2 separate regions of the Homo sapiens genome follow, and region 2 is reported to be linked to region 1. The links are microRNA targets in miRTarBase. Many come from high-throughput screens and were not tested one by one. Region 1 holds a microRNA gene; the other region holds the end of a gene's coding sequence.
Evidence for each region. Region 1 holds the annotated microRNA hsa-miR-2277-3p (UGACAGCGCCCUGCCUGGCUC, at 3,461-3,481, shown strand). A microRNA usually pairs through its seed, bases 2 to 8, with sites in the 3' UTR of a target mRNA and lowers its output. Matches are read on the target gene's strand: a 7mer-m8 pairs with bases 2 to 8, a 7mer-A1 pairs with bases 2 to 7 and ends in A, and an 8mer does both.

Region 2: the mRNA of ELOF1 is a reported target of hsa-miR-2277-3p. Seed matches in the 3' UTR shown: 7mer-A1 at 333-339 and 7mer-A1 at 891-897.

The regions. Positions count from the first base shown.
Region 1 is chr5:93,619,884-93,624,190 of GRCh38, reverse strand. MIR2277 (microRNA 2277) reads left to right here and starts at 3,403; the gene lies at 3,403-3,495. ARB2A (ARB2 cotranscriptional regulator A) reads left to right here. Exons shown (of 11, transcript NM_032042.6): 11 at 3,062-4,307. The coding sequence ends at 3,204. It overlaps LOC124901028 (a long non-coding RNA gene), which reads right to left and starts at 2,509. Exons shown (of 3, transcript XR_007058874.1): 1 at 2,248-2,509. RefSeq lists a silencer at 2,845-2,894.
Region 2 is chr19:11,550,977-11,553,976 of GRCh38, reverse strand. ELOF1 (elongation factor 1) reads left to right here. Exons shown (of 4, transcript NM_032377.4): 4 at 167-931. The coding sequence ends at 231. Among named protein-coding and RNA genes, the nearest start is that of ELOF1, 6.8 kb to the left of the region's middle. RefSeq lists enhancers at 1,210-1,329, 1,749-2,043, 1,413-2,384.

The DNA.
Region 1 (4,307 bases):
CTACCTTTTATATCCTTTTATGAACAAATAATGTAATGGTCTAGTGTTTCTGTACTGATGTAATAAAAAGCATCCCACTTAATGTCCCCTAAAGTGATGTATTTTTTAAGTACTAGAAACCTGCTCTCAAAAGTTTCCATTCACTGAACATTGTCATGGATAGAGTTTCATATTCATCTGTAAATATTTTCACTGAACTTTGGACCTAAATTTTTGAAAATGGTCTCCAAACATATTCTTGAAATGTATATATGCAGTCCAAGTTAGACATGTAATTATTCAACTTCTGAATGGTATTCTAAAAATCATTTAAAATCTACTTCCAAAAATTTAGAAAAGACATTTTTATATTACATATTCATGTTATCATTCCTTAGTTTAGGGAGAATTCTCTCCCTTCCACCCCATTCTCTGTAATTCAGTTGCTAACCTACCTTATTACCTTTACTCCTAGCAATTTCCCTTCGTCTGACAGAAGCACACATTCTCATTATTTATACTCTTAAATTACAAGAGTAAATGTTGAGAGCCAGTACAAGTATTCAGTTATCTCAGGGACTCTGGTCTTTTCAGTCCAGGACTAATCAAGCAGAGAGTCATCAAAAGCTAAAACTAAAAAGCTTTTGTAGTGATTTTATCACCAGGGAAATCTGTTCATCCTTCAGAAGGATTGTTACCCGTAAAGAAGAAATAAAGGAGTTAAAATTGCTTCAGACCGTTGACTCCTTAGGTCCCTCTAGATTCATAGATTGAATTGGTTTCAAGGGGTGGGAGGAATTATGAGGGGAATTCCCTGAGAAAGCTTACAAATTGATCATAGCCTTAGTAACACTAGTAGGTGTAAGTGTGATCACTATGGAGGAAATGCCAAATGTGGCTGTAAGCTTGGGAAATGGTTACGAAAAGAGACAATTAACACCTTTTTTTTTTTTTTTGGCTTATTGTATTTGGGGGTGGGTGTTGCCACGTAGTATGCATCTGAGAATGGTCTTTCAAAATGAATTACAATTGATTTTAAAATGTCCTACCATTATAAGTGCAACTGTGTAGTTATTACTGAAGTGAAACTAGGGTTGCAAACACTATAGAATAGAGACACACATTTGATAACCCTATCCAGAAACTGGTCCTCCTAGATCTACCCGCAAATATCATTTAAAGCAGGTATGTCTGAGCATATGTAGAACTGCTCAGTTAGGTTTGGAAAATATAAATGCCTCCAAATTCAAAAGAATCCTTTAAGATTGTCATTTGAATAAATCAGTAAAAATATAATAATATCTAGATGTTATGTATTATAACACCTATTGATGCAAGCAGGCATATATATATAATTTTCCCCCAAGAATTCTATGAAGAATTGTCAAAATCCACCTAGCACTTTAGGATTTAACAAGATAAACCTACACTCATCCCTCCTTCCTATTGAGTAACAATGAATTTTGCCCAAAATGAGTAAGCAAATAAAATGACCTCATTTTTAGTCTGAGTTGGGGGATATGACTTTAATACTGGGTCTTAGTTTCAAATTCAAGTTCATGAGGCCAGTCTGCAGAGGAAAGGAGGATAGAGAGAATCCTTGGGAGGGCACTGATAAAGAGAGAGGGGTTCTCTAGTAGGGCCAGCTCCCACAGCTAAGTCAGGCACAGACTGTAGCTTTCTGCTCTCTGGCCGACAGCAGCCATAGCATCCTTATTGTTGTAACTCCTAGATTGTGATACTGTCACAAAACTGTTGCTAGGCAACAAATGTGGTTACCAGGTCTCAGCGAATAGCTGAAGGGGAAAGCAAAGTGTTGCACCATTGTAGAGTAACCATAGCAATGACCTACTATTACAGACTAAAGAATTATCATTAACAATGTTAAAGTATCAGACTGAGGCCCTGAATCCGGAGACTTCCAAGCGGTATCTCTCTGCATAATTGAGTGATCTAGGAAGAGATTTCAACTGTTTAAAAGCTATTCACTCATTATTTCTGTGGAAGTCTGTAATTATTTTAATTTTTAATTTTAAAAAGTGCTCATTTATGAAGCCACTGGTAAAATGCTACATAAGCCATCACAGGGAGTCAAAAATAGCTAAATGTATTTCCTCATCTGTTCTTATGCTTGCATCCGTGTTATCCGCTGCCTGTGTTAAACTGAAGGTCGATTTGATTTGAAAACATGCTGTACATTAGTATTACATCGAAACCACAGAGAGAAGCCGTAGTAAAATAAAGTAACCCCATAAATTGACAACTAACCTGCATTTTCTAAGTTGAATTCCTCCTGATAAAATGGGAGGCCTAGATGCTCTTTTAGTAGTCACGGCTTTGAAACCTTTTTTTTAGCTGTTCTAAATTTGCCCCTTAAAATCTGTAAAAATGTCGCCCGCCAGGACACTTCAAGGCGTAATCCCTTTTGAATGCGGTCCTTCATTAAGCGTCCCGTATGATTTGGTCTCAGTGACCTAGCTGAGGTAATTGTGTCTAACAGCACAGCTTCCGGGAGACGCAAGAAAAATCATTCCCCCTTCCCCTCCACACCACCCCCTTGGGAAGCAAGGAAACAGGCGCTGTGCGATCCCGCACGCAGGGGAAACCAATCCCCGCGCGCGCCGAGTCTCGGGAGTGGGTGGTTTCCCGGAGGGAGAGGGAGTGGCCCTTCCCGCCCAGCGCTTCCATTGGCCCGGAGAGGCGGAGGCCTCGGGCGGCCAGCCGCGCCTCGGACGACCCCGGGACAGATCCGGGCCGCGTCCCCGCGTTGGGAGAGGGATGGGGACTGAGGCCGGAGACGCCTAGACGCCGCGGATAGCGAAGTCTGAGTTCCTCTGAGCCAGGGGGCAAGTGACCCCGCAGCCCTAGTTGTGCCCTGGGAGTCGGCTGGCCCGCGCCCGCGAGGGGGCGGGGGTCCTGGCTGAGGGGCGGGGCGCGGGCGGCTGAGGCGGGGCGCAGGCGGGAGGGGCGGGGAGGGGCGGGACCGGGTGGTCGGGAGCCGGGGCTCGGCCTGGCCCTCGCCGCCCTCACCGCGCCTGGCCCCGCGTGGCCACCTGGTAACCGAATGTGTTGTTCTTTGCAGGCACCGACCGTCACGAGCTAACTTCCTGGAAGAGCTTTCCGTCTATTTTCAAATTCTTTACCGAAGCCTCAGAGGCCAAGACCAGCTCCCTGAAGCCGGCTGTGACGCGCCGCTCCCACCGCATCAAGCACGAAGAGCTGTAAGAGGAGCGAGCGCGACGGGGGAGGCCGCCCTGGCGCACCCACCCGCACGCCTCCTCACTGCTTGTGTCGAGCGGACTCCCAGCCCCTCATTAGATTGTTTTCTTCCCAGAGCCCAGGGTCGTGATATATACATCTAAATAGCGTTTTGCATTATTTCTAGATGAGTGCAACTGTCAAAGCAATATGGGTTCACTGGTCGTGCTTCCTGCGGGCTGAGCGCGGGCTGAGCGCTGCCAGTCAGCGCTCACATTAAGGCTGACAGCGCCCTGCCTGGCTCGGCCGGCGAAGCTCTAATTGCCCTGAAGGAGACCGCGCGGGCGCTGCGGGTCCGGCGGCGTCGGCGCGGTCCTAGCGCCCGCCGTAGCGGAGCCGCTGCTGCTTCCCCCTCCTTAATCATGTCCATCTTTCCCCGCTCTCAACTGGAGCAAACTTCTATTCCAGACTTCAGATTTCCATTTTCACTAGGTTTTTCCCTGAGGGCATCTTATTACCCACCTCTTTTTTTTTTTTTTTAAGGAAGTTCCACACACACTCCAAAGCCGATTTCAAATTCAGAACCTGAATGCCATGATGTACCATGTAGTTTGGGGAATGCAAATTGTTCTCTCCCTGTTTTCATTTCGGGACCAGAAAAAAAAACAACTCTGCATAAAAATCTATAAAGTACTGAATCCGCATTACTGCTGAAAATCCTTTTGCCAGCTAATTGTGAGAGTTTACACAAGTCTCTGATTTCAGAAGAGACTGTTAAAACCAAAACAATGATGGGCAGCTCTTTTAAGTGTAGGTGTGAAGGTCCCATTTTCAATGGAATTTCCAACTGTTATCACTGGGATTGACTTTACTTTTTAAACACATAATGTGTACTGTGTGGCATTGTAATTTAGATATAACACACTTAAGTTTTGCTTTTTAAATCTCTCTGTGGAGAAAGGTTGTTGTTAATCCTTTCCAGAATGATCTATTCTGAGCTTTCCTGGAGTTAGGCCCTTCTAGGGAGAGAATTTTTTTATTGTCATCAGGAAACGAAACCTTTGTGCTCTGCAGCCTTTTTCTTCTGAAAGGCTAAGTGGGGCTAAAATTATCCTTTTAGTTTTCTGCTT
Region 2 (3,000 bases), not on the chromosome of region 1:
GGGGAGGGGGCTGGAGTCCGGACCCTGCTCATCTGGCCCACTGTGTGCCCTGGTGCAGGGCCAAAGCCGTCCAGAGGAACAGGTGCCACCTAGTGATTTCTGTGGGGTGAGAAGATGCAGGGCAGGGTTCCAATGCCAATGATCGCCCTTGACCTAAGTGGCCCAGATCTGTCAGAACCCGTGGATGTGTACAGTGATTGGATAGACGCCTGCGAGGCGGCCAATCAGTAGCGACACAGAGGACCCGCCCCCTGAGCAGCCCCGCGTACTGTGGATCCAGCTGTTCGGTTCTGGTCCAGAGACATTCCAGGGGTCCAGGGTGTGGGTCCTGGGCTGTCACAGCCGTGTGTGTGTGTGTGTGTGTGTGTGTGTGTGTGTGTGTGTGTGTGTGTGTAGTGGGTGTGCGTGTGGGTGTGGGTGTGAGTGAGTGTGGGTGTGTGTGGCTGCACGTGTCACTGGGGTGGCCGTGAGTGTGTGCTCACAGGTACGCGGTGGTGTCGGGTTCCTGGGCCTGAGGGGCCTGAACTGATCTCACTTGGCTCCGAAAGCCTTTGCTGTGTTCCCTGCAGCCCCTGGCCCCCCAGCCTTGGGGCTCTGGCTCCCCCCGGCGGAATTGGGGGACTGTTTCCTGACATCCTGGACAAGGGAAGCCCACTAGAGGCTGGAACAGGACCTCTCCAGCCTCCTCACCAGCACCGTGCCCATCTCAACTGGACTTCCCGCTCTCCTTCTCCACCTTCTAGTGCCCGTGGCCGGGGATTCAAAGCCGCCGTTCCCCAGGTCCCTGGGCTGGGCCCTGACAGGGAGCCGCCCCCCTCCCCATGGTAACCAGGAAGCCCGTTTCATGTTCAGTTGCTTTTGTAGAGGAAGCAAGGGCTGGGATGGGGACAGCTGTCAATCACAAGCCCTTAAATAAAGCAGCCAGCGCACATCCCTTGCTGTCCGTGATGTCTTGGGTTCTGCGTCTGCCTGGTCACCAGAAGAAGGAGAGGGGACCTGAGGCTCTGACGTTCGGGAGGTGGCCTGGTGGCCCATGTGACCAGCCCTTCAAACCACCCAGCGTTTTATTCAGTCAGTAAGCATTCAGGGTGGTGGAGCAGGCAGACATCTGGCCAGGTGTTTACAGCAGTCACAATAGGAAATGGGGGAGGTGAGACAGAACAGGTGGTCAGAGGAGGCTTCTGGGAGGGGCAGGCTGAGACAGTGACACCGTAGGGCCACCTCTAGCCAGACGCTGACCTCTGGCCTTCCTGCGTCGCCCCAGTGTCCTGACAGCCACTTTGTGGGGCAGGTGCCAAGCTAACCCCAAGTTCAAAGATGAGGAAACAGAGGCTAGAGGTGAAGGAGGTCACTGGCCCAAGACCCTACAGCCAGAAAGTGGCACAGGGGGGATTTGAACCCAGGAAACGAGGCTCCACAGCTTACAGTCTGACTTCTTGTGAGCCCAGAGTCCAGGCTGAGGGAACAGCTTACAGGCCGTTCTGGAGGTAGTGAGTGGAAGAGGGACACGGGAGGGAAACATGAAAGGGGCCTTTATTCAAGGGTGGTGAGGACTCTCAGAAGGCTGGTGTTGGGGCGGGATGTGTGTGGCCGATGGGGAGCACCTGAGGGCTGATGTCCCCTTAGCTGGTCGCACCGGTGACAAGGACCACAACACCCAGCAACCTGGGGCAGTGCCAGACCCTCCACCTGGCCTCATGAGCCCGGGTGGCAGGTGACCTGTGCTTCAGAGTCCTCGTTGCTACAGTGCAGGGGATGAAAGCACCTTCTTCCCGGAGCCATGCTGAGGATGGAAGTGCCAGGCATGGTTTGAGCGGCTCTGGGGCCCACCCAGGGCACTGACGGATGTGAACAGCGGGGGGAGACATTGAGCTGGCCCGGAAGCCCTGGCTGCCAGACTGGGCTGCTGGGTCTGGCCTGTGCACCCCCTCAGGCCCACTCTGCCATGACATGTCTTCCCTGGTTATCCCGCCACCTCCAAGATCCCAGGTAAGGTCTGCTAGCCCTGGCAGGAGCCGGCACACATGCGCAGAGTGGTGGACAGGCACCTAGGTTTAGGGTGATGGCCCTCTGGGATCCAGCAAAAAGGGGGCTCATTCCTCTGGCACCCGAGGCCCTTCCTGCCGCCCGCCCACCCCAGCCTCACAGGCTAAGTGCTAATATGGTGCTGTTTTCCCGAGGAGGCAGGGCCCTGGGCCAGGCCCGGATCCTCCTCAGCATAGCTTCCCCGCGCCGGCCCAGGGGGAGCAGGACTTGCGGTAGCCAGGCCAAAAGCGCCTGGAATCCGGTTTACGAGGCCCCAGGGGCTGCGTGCGTCTGTGCGCGGGTCTTCTGGTGTCTGCCTCCGCAGGTCTCCACGTTCCAGCCTCAACTCCTGCCCTCCCTGGGGAGAAGACAGCTCCGTGCCGCGCTCCTCGCTTCTCTGCCTCCTCTCCTCCTTGGAATCCTGATGGTTGGGGACCTCTCCCTCCTCCCGGGGATAACAGGGTCCCCTCTGAAATGTGAGGAGGTTGAGGCCCTGGACACAGCCTTTTAGAGTCCCGGGTTGGCAGGCTCAGCCTTAAGACGGCTGAGAGCGGGCGGGGCGCACAGAATTAACCGTGCCCTATGGTGCCCTGTGCCAGTCAGTAAAGGGCCATTGCCTTGGCTCAGAAGTGCCCCTCTCCCTGTCCCCTTTCCCCTCCCCACAGTCTGGGGCTAAAGGGTTCACCCTGCCCACAGGGCCCACCAGGACCCCTACTTGTCATCCTTTCTCTATTGATGCCTGGTCTTTACCAGCGATTAAACATGTAGAACATCACCCCATCTGGGGGTGTCATTTCATGACCACAAGAGGCTTACTGTCCCCATTATTTTGATGGGAAAACAGGTCTAGGGAGGGAAAGTGATTGCCCGAGGTCATCCAGGCAGCTGCTCTGTGATTCACATGCCATTTAGCCTGTCCCAGTACTCAGGCTCTTTGTCACCACCATCCACAAGCCTCTGGGAGAGCAGTGTGGG